2 linked regions of the Homo sapiens genome follow. The protein of the gene in region 1 interacts with the protein of each later gene in a biochemical or structural test. Each region holds a gene or a part of one and is shown on either strand. Other genes may lie near its edges.

Evidence for each region.
Region 2: the proteins of TCERG1 (region 1) and FMNL1 form a complex in vitro, tested with the Homo sapiens proteins (one study listed by BioGRID).

Annotation. Positions count from the first base shown.
Region 1 is NC_000005.10:146,478,325-146,485,346, forward strand, and holds part of TCERG1 (transcription elongation regulator 1), read left to right. Parts: intron 1-168; coding exon 169-329; intron 330-1,530; coding exon 1,531-1,587; intron 1,588-1,703; coding exon 1,704-1,770; exon of another isoform or gene 1,771-2,825; coding exon 2,826-2,876; exon of another isoform or gene 2,877-3,122; coding exon of another isoform or gene 3,123-3,246; exon of another isoform or gene 3,247-4,267; coding exon 4,268-4,403; exon of another isoform or gene 4,404-5,215; coding exon 5,216-5,305; intron 5,306-6,813; exon of another isoform or gene 6,814-6,926; intron 6,927-7,022. UniProt on the Homo sapiens protein: Transcription factor that binds RNA polymerase II and inhibits the elongation of transcripts from target promoters. Regulates transcription elongation in a TATA box-dependent manner.
Region 2 is NC_000017.11:45,217,548-45,224,891, reverse strand, and holds the start of FMNL1 (formin-like protein 1), read right to left. Parts: upstream 3,008-7,344; 5' UTR 2,768-3,007; coding exon 2,639-2,767; intron 1-2,638. UniProt on the Homo sapiens protein: May play a role in the control of cell motility and survival of macrophages. Plays a role in the regulation of cell morphology and cytoskeletal organization. Required in the cortical actin filament dynamics and cell shape.

The DNA of each region.
Region 1 (7,022 bases):
CAGTTATCTTGTAAAAACCATGTTTGGTTCTCTGTAAATAACTATTGGTAATAAGAACATGTCGTTCTTCAGTACCCTCATCTCCCTACTTGTAACAGGCTGAAAGAAGTCCTAGCTGTAAAATATGTTCTGTAACATAAGAGAATGATATTTTGCATCAATTCTTAGGTGTGTCGTTTGGACTGGTGATGAGCGGGTCTTCTTTTATAATCCCACCACTCGTCTTTCTATGTGGGACCGACCTGATGATCTGATTGGCAGGGCAGATGTTGACAAAATTATTCAGGAGCCCCCTCATAAAAAAGGAATGGAGGAATTGAAGAAACTAAGTAAGTTTTAAATTAGGAATTTATCCACTGATTTTAACATTCTTTTCATATTTTGATAGAAAATGTGGAAGGCATTTAGAAACCCTTTATTTTTCAAAGAATATAAGAAGCATTCGAAAAAAATAGACTGCTATCCTAGTTTGAATGAAATAATAGAGATTAAAAATATGGAGAGAATTTGGATAAGATTGTGCTTTGTAAAATATGTGTGTCTTTAATTTATTGTCCTACTCAAGATTTTCAGTTAGTCCAAGATATGGTTGGTAGTGTTGCTGCTTGCTTAGTGCTTATCAATACTACTAAAATGCTCCTCGGTGGGCCTTTTAGCACCTTTTGTGACTAGTAATATATTTCTTGAAATAATACATTACAAATTTTTTAAAAATACAAAATCTCAATCTTTTGAATTAGATGGTAAGCTCCTTATATTCCTGAGACTAGACACCTAAACCTTACTAAGAGATTATCTTTTAATCTATCTCATATTCAGAGGGCATACTAATATATTGAGTACAGATATTTGTACGTAATTTTTGTTGTGTATTTCTTATTGGTAATTTGCCCTTGTGTTGATATGATTGTGTTTTTATAGAACTGTGGCCCGCAAGTGGTATAGAAGCAAGATAAATGAATTATTTAATGCTTCTAATGAAATAAATCCTAGTGTGTATCATTTATAGTCATTGAGACATTTTCATGCATTATATATATGCTGAATTATAAGTAATTTCTGAGTCAGTGCCGCTTTGCCTATCTAGTGCTGAAGGTACTAGGCTCACCTTCAGCAATACTTGTTTTATAGGTATGATAATAATACTTTATAACTATGGTATTGAATGATGTTGAAACAATATGTGATTTTCTTTTGTTTTTCGTGAATTTGTTTTTAAATATTTGATTCATTCATTTGATAAATACATTAACGTGCATTGTTAAAAGGTACTGTAAATCCTGAATCAAGAAAGCTTTATTTTATATATTTGTAAATTTAAGGTTTGGGCAAGAAACATTTCAAAATGAATTAAATTTAATGTAAAGGGAGGATAAATAGAGGAAGTGTAGAATTATGCTTTGTTTAATGTTTTATAAAGGGATGAATATTAAGAGGTGAATATATTATGTAAACAGTAATTTTTAAAAAGAAAAGTTTGTGAAATATATGCAAATGACTTTGTAACAATATTTGAAATGTTTTTGCCAGGGCACCCAACTCCGACAATGCTGTCGATCCAAAAGTGGCAATTCTCTATGAGTGCAAGTGAGTGAACTAACCATAAATTGCAGCTTCTTTTTAATACTATTAAAGCAAGTGTTCTGGTAGTGATTAGCAGAAGGATTCATTCCTAAATATTTTAATTAAATTTTGTCTTATAGTTAAAGAGGAACAAGAATTAATGGAAGAAATTAATGAAGATGAGCCTGTTAAAGCAAAAAAACGGAAGTAAGTAATACATACGATTTGATTGAGGTAGATTATATCTTTTAAAAGTCGATTTGGTAATAATTTGTGATTGGAAGGGACAGGTAATGTGAATGTTGTTAGGAGGCATGATTGCTCTCTTAGGCCTGATAATAAATAGCTTTGTTTTTCATTGTAGAAAATGTGTCCCTTCTTTTGCTAGATTTGTAGAAGATTTGGGTATTCATATATGTATTATGACTCCAAATGATAGTTTTGGAATTAATTCTTTTTGGAAATTTATTAGGTCTCAATTTTATGAAAAGTTAGTTTCCTCCCTCATTTAGACCCCAATGGATACCATTCCAGAGATCTCATAAAAACAGACACAGACTTCTCCCTCTTTATATGGTTATCTTACGACTTACCTAGTCCTTGAGTCTGGTCATTAACTCCTTGGTGAGGAGAGAACCCATAAGCTTAGGAAGTGCTCTGCGAGAAAGAGACTGCTAAGAAGTAGAGGCATTAGCTTGGCCAGTGCTCTAGAGTTGGGTAAAATGTAAATGTTATGGCGGGGGGAAGGATGGGGTAGAGGGTATGCATGTATGGGGAATGGGACCATTATTTAGCAGCAAAAAGGAAAGTTTGAAGACATTAACAGGAACTGGTTAATTGTAGTCCTTATCTGAAAAGGACAGATTGAATGCAGCCAAATTATGGCAAAGAAATCAGTAGGACAACCCCTATAAAGGGTAGTTCTTTTAAAAAAAATTTCTTTATTGGCAACAACATAAAAGATATGAAAGAATCACTCATAATTTATCAGCGTAACATAGCTATTCTCATTTTTGCAATTGACTTTTTAGTTCTTGACCAAATGTAATTTTTATTAGTTGTGATTAACTGATTTTGTGCTTTTTTTTTAAAAAAAAAAAACCTAGAATAAGACATTTGTTTTGTTAATTATTATAAATGACTGTATTCATTCTGTTTATGTACCATAATTTTGGATGTTCCTACGATGTTAAACTTTTAGGTTGTTTTTAATTGTTTGTTCTTATAGACAACTCTGTAAGGTTTTTAACTGCTTTTATCAGGAGAATGTCAAAGAAGTCCTTTATGTGGATTGCCCGAGCTTCTCTATTTAGGTACAAAGCTAAAAGCCTGTTTTTCCTGGCTTAGTTTTTCTTTTATTTCCTTTATTGAGATAGATAGTGATAGTTTGTATTGTGACATTTTCATTTAGTATAGTTCTATAAAGGTTATTTGTTTTTATTAGTTACTTCTTGGATGTCTTTTAACTCTAACTATTTAAATAGTTTTAAAATTATTATTATAAGAGGGTATATTGTTTGGCAAATTGCTTTTACCTGTTTGTTTTGTGCATATCTTAGGTCACAGACTATCTCGCTAAGTTCCTGCAGGTCACGGACTATGTCTTCTATTTCTTTTGATTCATTGCCTAAGTTGCTAAGTACCTCTCACTTGCATTTGTGGGTTAGCCTTAGTTCCATTTAAATCTCTGGGGCTACCTACAGTTTCCTGTATAGCATGCTTTTGAATTTCCACATGTTCTGTTTTCCTAATTCCCTTAAGTTTGTATAGGGAATAAGAGCCAATTTTTAAAATATACTTAGCAGATCATATTTAAGAAGGAAGATCTGCTAAAATACACCCAGATATTATTGAATTACATACTTTTTTGGATTATTTACGTGAATGGGCCTTTTTCATAGTGCATATATTTGAGAGGTGCCGTGATTCCATGTTTACAATTTCACTTGAGTACCACACAGAAACAGGGTTGCCCTTACACCTGAGGTGCATTTTTGGAGGAACAAGAAGTAGTTTAGTCATTGATGAACAGTTCTAATTCCACCTAACTACTCCTGGGCCCATGTTGCTCTCTGGGACCTGTCCTTCAACTTAAATCTCAACTTATCACCCAGAAAGTGAGTAATAAAAAGTCAGGTAGGTAAGGTATATATCTTACATATTCACTTGGCCAAGATTGCAGATATTTTAGTTTTATTTTTAAAATGAATGTTTGAGATTACTAAAACATTATACCACTTAATACCAATTTTTATTAGATTTTACAAAATATTTTATGTGTTTATAATGTAAAACATTTTGGAAAATACTGTTTTTTCTATATTTCAAGAACTAAAAAAATTATATTTTGTGCTGTTTGATTCTGACACATAGAGGTTTACTGCAGTGTTAAACTTTTTTTTTTTTAAGTAAGGTTGCTCCCTTTTTATGTTATTAACCAGTGTCAGGGAGAGACAGCCCATTAAAGGTGTATTTTTTTCCTAATAATGTAGCCATTGTAAATCATTAGAAGCCCATTTTAATTTTGTTATTATGAAAGTTATTTATCCCTTAGAGTTCATTTGAAACCCTCAATATAATTTGTTTTTGCCAAAAATATGCTGCTCAGTAGTGAGTCTTGAAAATTCCTTTGATTTTAAGATTTCTAATAAGATCTGAGAATTAATATTTTGTCAGTTGATGTCTTATATTTTATTTTTTATAGGAGAGACGATAATAAAGACATTGACTCAGAGAAAGAAGCTGCCATGGAAGCTGAAATTAAAGCTGCCCGAGAAAGGGCCATTGTCCCTCTGGAGGCTCGAATGAAGCAGTTCAAGGACATGCTGCTAGAGAGAGGGGTCAGAAAACAATCTTTGGGGGAGATATTTCTGTTTTGTATAAGTAATATAAATATGTCTTGCTAAAAGGTCAAATCTAAGGTTAGTGCTCATGTTATGGGGGGGGATAAGGGGATTTTTAAAATTACTGTACATTTTTTGCAACAGCCTTTTTCTTGGCTAATCTTATCATATTTAACTAAATGCCATTTTACTGTCCTTTTAAGTACAAATAACACTTAACATTTATTGGGTCATTAAATTGTGGTGAGTAATATAAGACGAGTATTAACATTACAGAATGGCGGACTGCTTGGGATAGGTAAGGTATATATGATTATTCTTCCTTTAATATCTTGAGAATGGCTTTTGTTAAAGGAGAACTGATACTTTGTGATATTATTATTTGCAATTTAATTGAGAAGGGATTTCAACTATTTGGTTATATTCACAGATTCATTTGAATAAGTAAAATTGTTCAATTTTAAATCACAACATTGTTCACAAGATTGGAGCAAGCATGAGAAATCAAAATATAAATCTTCAAGGCTTTTTCTGATGTACTGATTTTTAAAATGTCACACAGTAGTAGTTATTTTAATGAGTAATTAAGTGTCTGTTATTTCTATATAATATAGGAATGTTCAGAGCCAATTAGTGTGGAAATTTGCTATTGCTAGCCTCCCACTGCTTGTCATTTATTAGTGATGGAAACTTCAGTATGGTTTTATGTCTCCTTTATAAACAGATATCCTGTAGATTTCAAGCAAAATTATGACCTTTATATTTTTAGAGGAGACTTAATTATGAGGCAATACGTTTTTATTTTAAAGGTGTCTGCTTTTTCAACGTGGGAGAAGGAGTTGCACAAGATAGTTTTTGATCCCCGGTACTTACTTCTCAATCCTAAAGAGAGAAAACAGGTAAAAGGAAAATGGCATTAACTAAGAATGTATATCTCTTGCCAACATAGTTTTTAAATTATAAGGAATAAAGTACCATCCCTTTTTTTTCTGATACAGCATTTCAAAAATATAGTCTTGCATCTTAGAACATATTATGTGTCTGTGTGTGGACATTTCTACTTCAAAATTCTTGGATATTTTTGCCCTTATGAGCATGGCTGTTGTCTTGTAAACATTTTGTCCTTATGCCTCATATACCTAGGTTATGTGTAGTATGGTTTTAAAATTGATTTCAAATGCATTTACTAATTTGCTTGTTTGGGCCAATGATGCAAATTTAGAGTAGAAAAATAGCAAAATACAGATGAGTAAAAAGGATAAAAAAGCTACTGTAATCCCAACTAATAGATATGACTACCGTTGAACACTGGTTTATTATTGAATACTGAACAGCCTTCTTGACCATTATGTGTCAGTATGTACATATATATGTGTGTGTGTGTCCTGTAGATAGTACTTGAACATAGGTTTATGTCTTATACACAACTGCATATACAAAGTTCACATCTAAGTAGCATCTGTTAAAATATCTGTTTCCATCATAAACTCAGAAAAACAGTGGATACTTAAGGGTCCCTGTTGAATTAGTGTTGCTTTTTATTCCCATGATGATTCAGTGACACATATCATTTCGTGATTGCCTCTTCTAAAGCATTGCACACTTCCAACTTACTTAATTTCTGAATTACCTGAACTATCCTGACACTGATCTCCATAAAATGGTGAGTATGTGGAACCACTTGCTATAGTGCTGTTAAGCTGTAAGATTTCATTTGGTAACAGTAGTGCCCATCTTTGATATTTTTAATGTAACAATTGAAATAATTCTTCACATGGTGTGTACCATTATGCATGTAGGTCTAATCATGGACTTGAATGAAGGGAGAAAATTTACAATGTGCCAGATATGTATTTTAGTACTTGGAATAGAAAGACATAACTTCCTTAATGTATTTGCATCTTCATTTTAAGCTTTGTATCTTTTTTAAAAAACAAACTCTGTGTGAGTTTTTTATTCTCATTTCAGTTTATGGCTCTATCAAAATTTATAAATTAGCCTTGATTCCTTACTTTTCCCACTTCCCCTTTACAGTCTTATCAGCAAATCTATAATCTACCTTCAAAAAATTTTCAAAATCTCACCTTTTATTAATCATTTCCCCCATTAACACCCTAATCCAAGCCACCATAAACAACCCTTATCATCTGTGTAGCCTATTGTTGATCTCCTTCATTCCATCTGTTCTTGTTCCTCTTTAGTCAAGTTCTTTTTCCACACAGCAGCCAGGCTAATTTTAAAGTTTAAGTGATACTAAATTAAGTCACTGTTCCCTTGCTTAAAACTGTTTAGTGCTTTCCATTTCATTGAGAATAAAATTGAAGCTCTTTTCATGGTCTCTAATATTCTACATAGACTTACCCCTGTATACCTCTTGATGGTCTTTTTTAATGTCTGTTGATTACAGCCACACTGGCCCTGATATTACTTGAACAAGCCAGTCATTCTGGTGTTTGCTATTCCTTCTGCCTGGACTGTTTTTCCTCCAGGTGTTAGTACAGCCAGCTTCATTTCATTAAGGTACTTGTCCCAGTGCCTTCTAATCAATCTAAGTATTGTCTCTTTGCCTTTTCTAATTTCTTTATGGTGCTCATGGCTCTAATTGTATAAAATTAT
Region 2 (7,344 bases), on another chromosome or scaffold:
GCGCCCCGCTGGCTGGTGTTCCCACCATCACAGCAGGCCCGTGGGGCTGGGCAGCCATCGCTCCTCTGCTGTTGCTAAGGCAGCAGCCGGAAACCCTGGCTCAACCTGCTCTTTCTCTCCACCCCCATTTTAAGCAGGGGGCACCCCTTTCTTTCACAGCTTTCTTGGAAAGGTAGCCCCCCACCACCCACCCTTGCATGGGAGAAGGGCTCCCTGCACCTCCTGTCTGGCTGTAAGTGGGGACACCCCTCACCCACAAGAGAGGTCCTACAGCCAGGAGAGGAAGGAGAGTTTGGGGTATCAGGATCCTATGCCCCACCAGGGACAAAAGGGGAAGGAAGAGGTTCCCTGGGGCCGCTGGACTACATCCCTGAGGGCAGGACTGTGCTTCTCCCATTGAGACTGGGGACCACTGATGGCGGTGGGCCCCTCCCCTCAGCAATCTAAGGTTCTTCTCCTCTTAGACACTGACCGAGGACAGGACTCAGCTCTGGCCATGGTGGTTCGGGTGGGGGTTCACATAGCGACCAACTCTGCGATACACACTGCCAGACCTGAGGGTTGAACCAACTCTTTAGCCCTGGGCAGCCTCAGGCAGAGGTCAAGGTTGTCACCCTGGGGCAAGCCTCATGCCCCTGCTGGTGGGGAATGAGAGGAACCAGGGTCTTAGCCAAGTGTCCTTAGATTGGGTTTAACCTGCCCACAACAGGATATAAGACAGGCTGAGCCACCCCGGGAAGAAGGTATAAACACACTGGGGTTCCTGGGCACCTGGTAGGGGGTAAGCCCTGGTGGGTGCTGCTACCCTAAATTTCTGCTAGGCACCTCCACTTTCTCCACCAGCACACCCTCTCTGACCCACCTGTGGGTGTCCCCCCTCCACATCCTGGTACTCAGGGACTCCCAGTGGCATTTAGTGTCAGACTCAGCCAATCACAGCCACAAATCCAAGCAGGGCAAACAAGTCCTACACACACATCAGAACCTCACCATTTGACTTGTGGATTTTCCCCTGGTCTGAATTATTCACAGGGCTCCTCCCCATCAGCGTGCTAAACAGAAGATTGGGGTCAGGACCTCACCCCAAGAGCCCACACCCGCGACCATAGACACACACTTGGCGGAAAGACAGACCCATGTCCCTCCAACCAGGTTGGCAGGGGTCCAAGGACCCACCACCAATGCAGGCTCTCCAGATGGCCCCCAGAGACTGTGTCTCCTCATTCTCCCCCCTCCCCCATCTGCTCAGCTCAGCTCAGCTTTGTGAAGTCCTATGCTTGGGGAGCGGGGAGCAGGGCAGGTGGAGAGATGGAGAAGTCAGGGGCCAGCCTGGTGTGAGGCGTCCCTCAGTGTCCCTGCCCTCCTCTAATCAAGCAAGGTGTCTTCACAAGGATGGATCCCTCGCCACCCCATAGCTCCTCCAAACTCCCCCCAGCCTTCTCTTGGGAGAGGACAGAAGCCAACATTTTCAGGAACTGTTAGGAGGTGACCCTCTGGAGCCATGCTGAGGATCTAGCACGTATGGCCTAATGACCAGCCAGGCGAGGGGAAATGATGTCAAGGAGATGGAGGGCCACCAACTGAGCCAGAACCCTCTGCGGCCTGTGTCTCCGTTGAGCCCCCACCCTCAGACCTGCAGGGACTGGGAAATGCATCTGGGAGAAGGCACAGCCTCATTTTGCCTGTCACCCAGCGTCCAGCAAGGGAAGGCTGACAGCAGGCAGGCCACCAGGCAATTAGTTAGAGGAGGGAGCCAGGGCCAGGGCGTCGGGGGTGGGGAGAGTGAGAGTGAGCAGCTCTTCCTCTCCCTACTTCTGCCTTATGCAGGGTCTTGGAGACCCCTGAGTCTGCTCTGGAGCCCCCACCCCACTGAACATGTTGACTGTTTCCAGGCTCGGCCTGAGCTGCTGGTTCCCTCCCAGAGACCTATTCCCCAGCGACCCCGCTCCAATTCCCCAGGTAGGCACAGAGGGGGGTGGTTCCAGATTTTGCTCCACCCCTAGCCTGGGCGACCCACCCGTCCTGACCCCACCCTCCCTCATCTTACTCCCTTCAGTGGCTTGGAAAGGATGCCCCAAGATAAAGACCCACAGGCACCCTGGCTCTGACATATGGCGGGGTAGAAACACAGATACCTCCTGGCCATGATCCGACAACCCCATTCCCCGCAGCCCAGGCGCCCAACAAATCAGGACCCAACACCTCCAGCAGGTCTCCCGCTCCCGGGAGGTTGTAACCCTTTCATCTTTGACTCCAGACACAGAAAGGCAGATGCCCCAGACCCGCGCCCGGTGGCTGGGCCTGCGTGCAGTGGGGAAGGGGGCGACCCGGGACCCCTGTGCGTGCCCCGCTCCCAACTTCTTCACAGGACATACTTGTTTAGACCTTAAGACCCAGCTGGGGTGGAGGCGTCTTAGGGAGGGAGACCGGGCGATAACTGAAGAAAGTTTTGGGGGGAGAGTGCTAAGTCACTCTGAAAAAAAGGCCACTGTCGCTCCCACCTCCTGGAGGGGGCAGCTGCCGGACCGGGGATCTCCAAGCGGCACCTGAGTCCCCGGGGGCGGGGACGCGCGCCCAGCCCCTGCCGCGCCCCTGCCGCCCCCCGCCCGCGCCCGACCCGCCTCCGGGTCGCACTCACCAGGGCGCGGTTGAACCTCTCCTCCAGCTCTCCGGCCGCGGGCATCGGCTGCTTGGGAGGCGCGGGCTGCTTGGGGGGCGGCGCGGCGGGGCCCGCGGGCTGCTCGGCGCTGCCGGCCGCGTTGCCCATGGTGGTCCCCACCCAGCCGGCCAGGCGCCTCCAGCCTCGGAAATCCAGCTTTCCGGGGGACGGGGACGAGGCTCCCGGCCCGGGCGGGGGCGAGGGGGCAGCGGCTGGCGGTGGCGGCGGGGGTCTCGGCAGCGGGGGGCGCTCGGCTCAGCGGCGCGCAGGGGCCGGAGCGCGGCGTCCCATCGGGGCGGCCCCGTCCGTGGGACCGGGCGGCGAGCTGCAGGGTTGGGGGAGGAAGTCAGGCTGCAGGCCGCCGGGGCCAGAGGGCTGGGCCGGGGGCAGGAAGCTGCGGCGCTGGCTCCCCCCTCGGCGATTTTCGAACTTCTGCTGTCGCTCCCCGTGCGCGCAAACCGCAGTTCGCCGCCGCCGCCGCCGGGCACCCAGCCCCAGGGGGGCGGGCTGGAGGGAGGGGGCGGGCGCTGGCCGGGGGACCCCCGCAACCATGGCGGGCGGGGAGTGGGCTGCCGAGCCGCTTCACCTGCCGCAGAGGGGGCGGCCGGCGCCGCTTCACCTGCCGGAGCGGGAGGCCACCGAGGCGAGGCCGAGGCGGCGGCGCGCTCGGCGGCGCCTCCGGGTCCTAGAACCGCATCCTCCCGCTCGCCTCGGGCGAGGGATTGGCCGGGTCTGGGTGAAGGGGATCACGGCCTGGGGATTGGAGGGGCACATCTTCTCCGCACCGAGGATCTCAGCGACTGCGAGCACGGCTCGGAGACCCACGGTGGTGCAGCGTTGGGGCGCCAGGGCTGCGTTCCCGTCTCGCGTCCCGGACTGAGAAGGTGGGAACCCCCTTCCAGGCCCCCCACCTTTTATTTCTCTCCTCCCCTGCTTAGCCCAGAGACGAGCTGAGGACGAGGGGGAGCCATCTCCAAACAGGAACTCCTAAACAGGGTGGGGGGCGCGGACGCAGGCCAGTGGAGACCCCCGCCACCTGTCCCACCTCGACCAACCGTGCGCCTGTGCAGGGCACCCCTACAGGTTTTAGAATGGGGGCACCTATGGAATATGGCAGGCTGCGAGAAGCTGGGCCCGCCAAGGTGGTCCCAAGGAGGAGTGGGGGGTTGCGGAAAGGAGGATGAGAGCCAGCCACAAGGCTGGAAAAGGAGTGGGCACCGCAGAGGAGGGAAAAAGAATCTTGACACTGTCACCGCCAGGGATCTAGGGGGGCCTCTTACCTTGGAGAATAACAATCTCTGATGTCTGCTAATTACAGAAATACTTTCAGAGCTCTTTCATTCATCCTGACAATGGCCAGAGAAGGTAGGTATTGGTAGCCTTATTTTAGAGATGGGGAAACTGAGGCTGAGAGTAGGTAAGTAAGCTGTCCAAGGGCACTCAGCTAACAAAGGACAGAAGCAAGCCTCCTCACTGTCTACCTCCAAAACCTACACTGGCTTGGAGTTGCTGTCCTGGCCCTCCACTGCCCATCTCATGTAGGACGGGAGAGTATGGGGGGCTGGGGTCCCATCTATAGCCTGAATTTGAGACTTTCAGTTGCTCCTCTCATTCCCCATTTAATTTGTGGGGATCCCCAACTGACCCCTCCCTACACTTCCAGGGCACTGAGGAGGGAGGGCCCGCTGAAGGAGCCCCGAATTATCTCTAGGCCAGGTCAGGAGCCATTAGTGTCCCCTCCCCTGACAGCATCCTCCTCCTTCTGCCCTCACATTCAGAGCCACTGACAAGACTTTAAGCAAGAGACGGAGAGTTAACATCTAATCTGGAGGAAGACCCTGGAAGGAGCCAGCCCCTTCCCCCAGGCTGACCTGGTTTAAGCCTTTCTTCTGCCAAGGTCACCAGCACCCCAGATGGGTGAGAGATGTGATCACTGGTTTCGTGGCCTGACCAAGGACCTCCAAGGTGAGTCAAAGCAGAATTCTCCTTGGGCATGCAGGGAAAATGATCCATTCCCTGCACACTGCCATATTCTCCTTCTCAGACAGACCAGAGCCTTGCCCTTGGGTCCTTGCCCTTGAGATTAGCTAGGACCTCCTCCTCTTCTTCTCCTTCTTTCTTCTTCTTCTTGTCTCTATAAGATAACTGTCGTGGAAGACTTTTTTTTTTCTTTTAAGATGGAGTCTCTCGCTGTTGCCCAGGCTGGAGTGCAGTGGCTCGGTCTCAGCTCACTGCAACCTCCACCTCCCAGGTCCAAGCAATTATCCAGTCTCAGCCTCCTCAGTAGCTGGGACCACAGGTGCGTGCCACCACACCCAGCTCATTTTTGTATTTTTAGTAGAGACGGGGTTTTGCTATGTTGACCAAGCTGGTCTCGAACTCCTGACCTCAAGTGATCCGCCTGCCTCGGCCTCCCAAAGTGCTGGGATTACAGGCATGAGGCACCCCGTCCAGCCTGGAAGACTTTTTTTTTTAATGAATAAAAACACATTTTTTTAAAGAATGGATTCCCTGATTCCTCAATGGCTGTCTCTTTCAATTGAACAATAAACCTTTACTTAGCATCAGCTACATGCCCATCACTGTGCTTGGTCCTGCAGATTCTGTGGCAGATGAGAAATGCCTTGGTCCTTGGGCTGCTTGCAGCCTAGCGAGGGACAGACTTTTAACCTCTCTAGGAGAGTGGCTGCTTCAAGTCATCCTATGGGACCAGCTGTTCATGCTTCCTCTTGCCCAGAACTACTTCTGTGAGAGGAAAAGAGAAGGGTAGGAGCGTGCCCTGCAGCTGGAAACCCAAGCCAGGCGGGGAGCCACGAATGCAGTAGTTATCAGACTGTATCTTCAATCCTGGGGGCTTCTCAAGCCATTGCCAGCCACTCTTCACCCAAGGCCTGGTGGAATAAAGCTGGGCTAAGTAACACCTCTTCTGTGGAAAATTATTGTTTCTGCAAGCCTATATTCATTCTCCCTCTCTCTCATGCTGATCAGAACTGTGAGTTACAAAAAAAATGAGAAGATGGAATCAATTATTACGTAGTAAATTTCATTTGCTTGGCAGGAGGTATCTTTCCCATCTTGGCCCACAGAGGAGGAAATCCTAGAAGGGATGACTGAAGCTTGGGACTAACACATTGGTGGATCTGTGCTACCCCCTGCTGGCCGTAGACGGTATGACAGCCAAGATAGGGCAAGGCTTCGAGGGGCGATGGATGGATTCACCGCAGCGGCGACATTTCTGGACTGTTGTCACCTTCAGTGCAGTCACTGGGAATATTCAGAACCCAGGTGATTGATAAGGTTTTCCCAGGGATCTCTTCTCTCCCCTTCACCATTACTCAGTAGGAGCTTCCTTAAAAACGGAAAACGAGAGGCCGGGCGCGGTGGCTCACGCCTGTAATCCCAGCACTTTGGGAGGCGGAGGCGGGCGGATCACGAGGTCAGGAGATCGAGACCATCCTGGCTAACACAACCCCGTCTCTACTTAAAATACAAAAAATTAGCCGGGCGTGGTGGCACGCGCCTGTAGTTCCAGCTACTCAGGAGGCTGAGGCAGGAGAATCGCTTGAACCCGGGAGGCAGAGGAGGTTGCAGTGAGCTGAGATGGCGCCACTGCACTCCAGCCTGGCCGACTGAGACTCCATCTCAAAAAAAAAAAAAAAAAAAGGAAAAAGGGGCCGGGCGCGGTGGCTCACGTCTATAATCCTAGCACTTTGGGAGACCAAGGCGGGCAGATCACGAGGTCAGGAATTTGAGACTAGTGTGGCCAACATGGTGAAACCCCATCTCTACTAAAAATACAAAAAATTAGCCGGGTGTGGTGGCGCATGCCTGTAATCCTAGCTACTCGGGAGGCCGAGGCAGGAGAATCGCTTGAACCCAGGAGGCCGAGGTTGCAGTGAGCCGAGATCACGCCATTGCACTCCAGCCTGGGCGACAGAGCAAGACTCCGTCTTGAGGGAAAAAAAAAAAAAAAAGAAAAAGGGGCCAGGCACCTGTAATCCCAGCACTTTGGGAGGCTGAGGAGGGAAGATCGCTAAAACCCAGGAGTTCAAGACCAGCCTGGGCAACATGGTGAGACCCCATCTCTACAAAAAATGCAAAAAAAAAAAAAACAAAAACAAAAAAAAAAACAGCTGGGCATGATGGTGCGCACCTGTAGTCCCAGCTACTCGGGAGGCTGAGGTGGGAGGATTATTTGAGCCTGAGAGGTCAAGGCTGCAGTGAGCCAAGATCGCATCACTGCACTCTAGCCTGGGTAACAGAGCAAGACCCTGCCTCAAAAAAAAAAAAAAAAAAGGAAAAAGGTTATTACACAGTTCAAAAGAGAAACAAAGTGCAAAAGCATGTGCAAAGAAAGTAAAGTCCCTCCTGGCCAAGTGCGATGGCTCAAGCCTGTAATCTCAACACCCTGGGAGGCTGAAGTGGGTAGATCATTTGAGGTCTGGAGTTTGAGACCAGCCTGGCCAACATGGTGAAACCCCGTCTCTACTAAAAATATAAAAATTAGCTTGGCGTAGTGGCGGGTGCCTGTAATCCCAGGTACTCGGGAGGCTGAGGCAGGAGAATCACTTGAACTTGGGAGGCGGAGGGTGCCGCGAGCCAAGATCACGCCAGTGCACTCTAGCCTGGGCAACAGAGCAAGACTCCATCTCGAAGGAAGGAAGGAAGGAAGGAAGGAAGGAAGG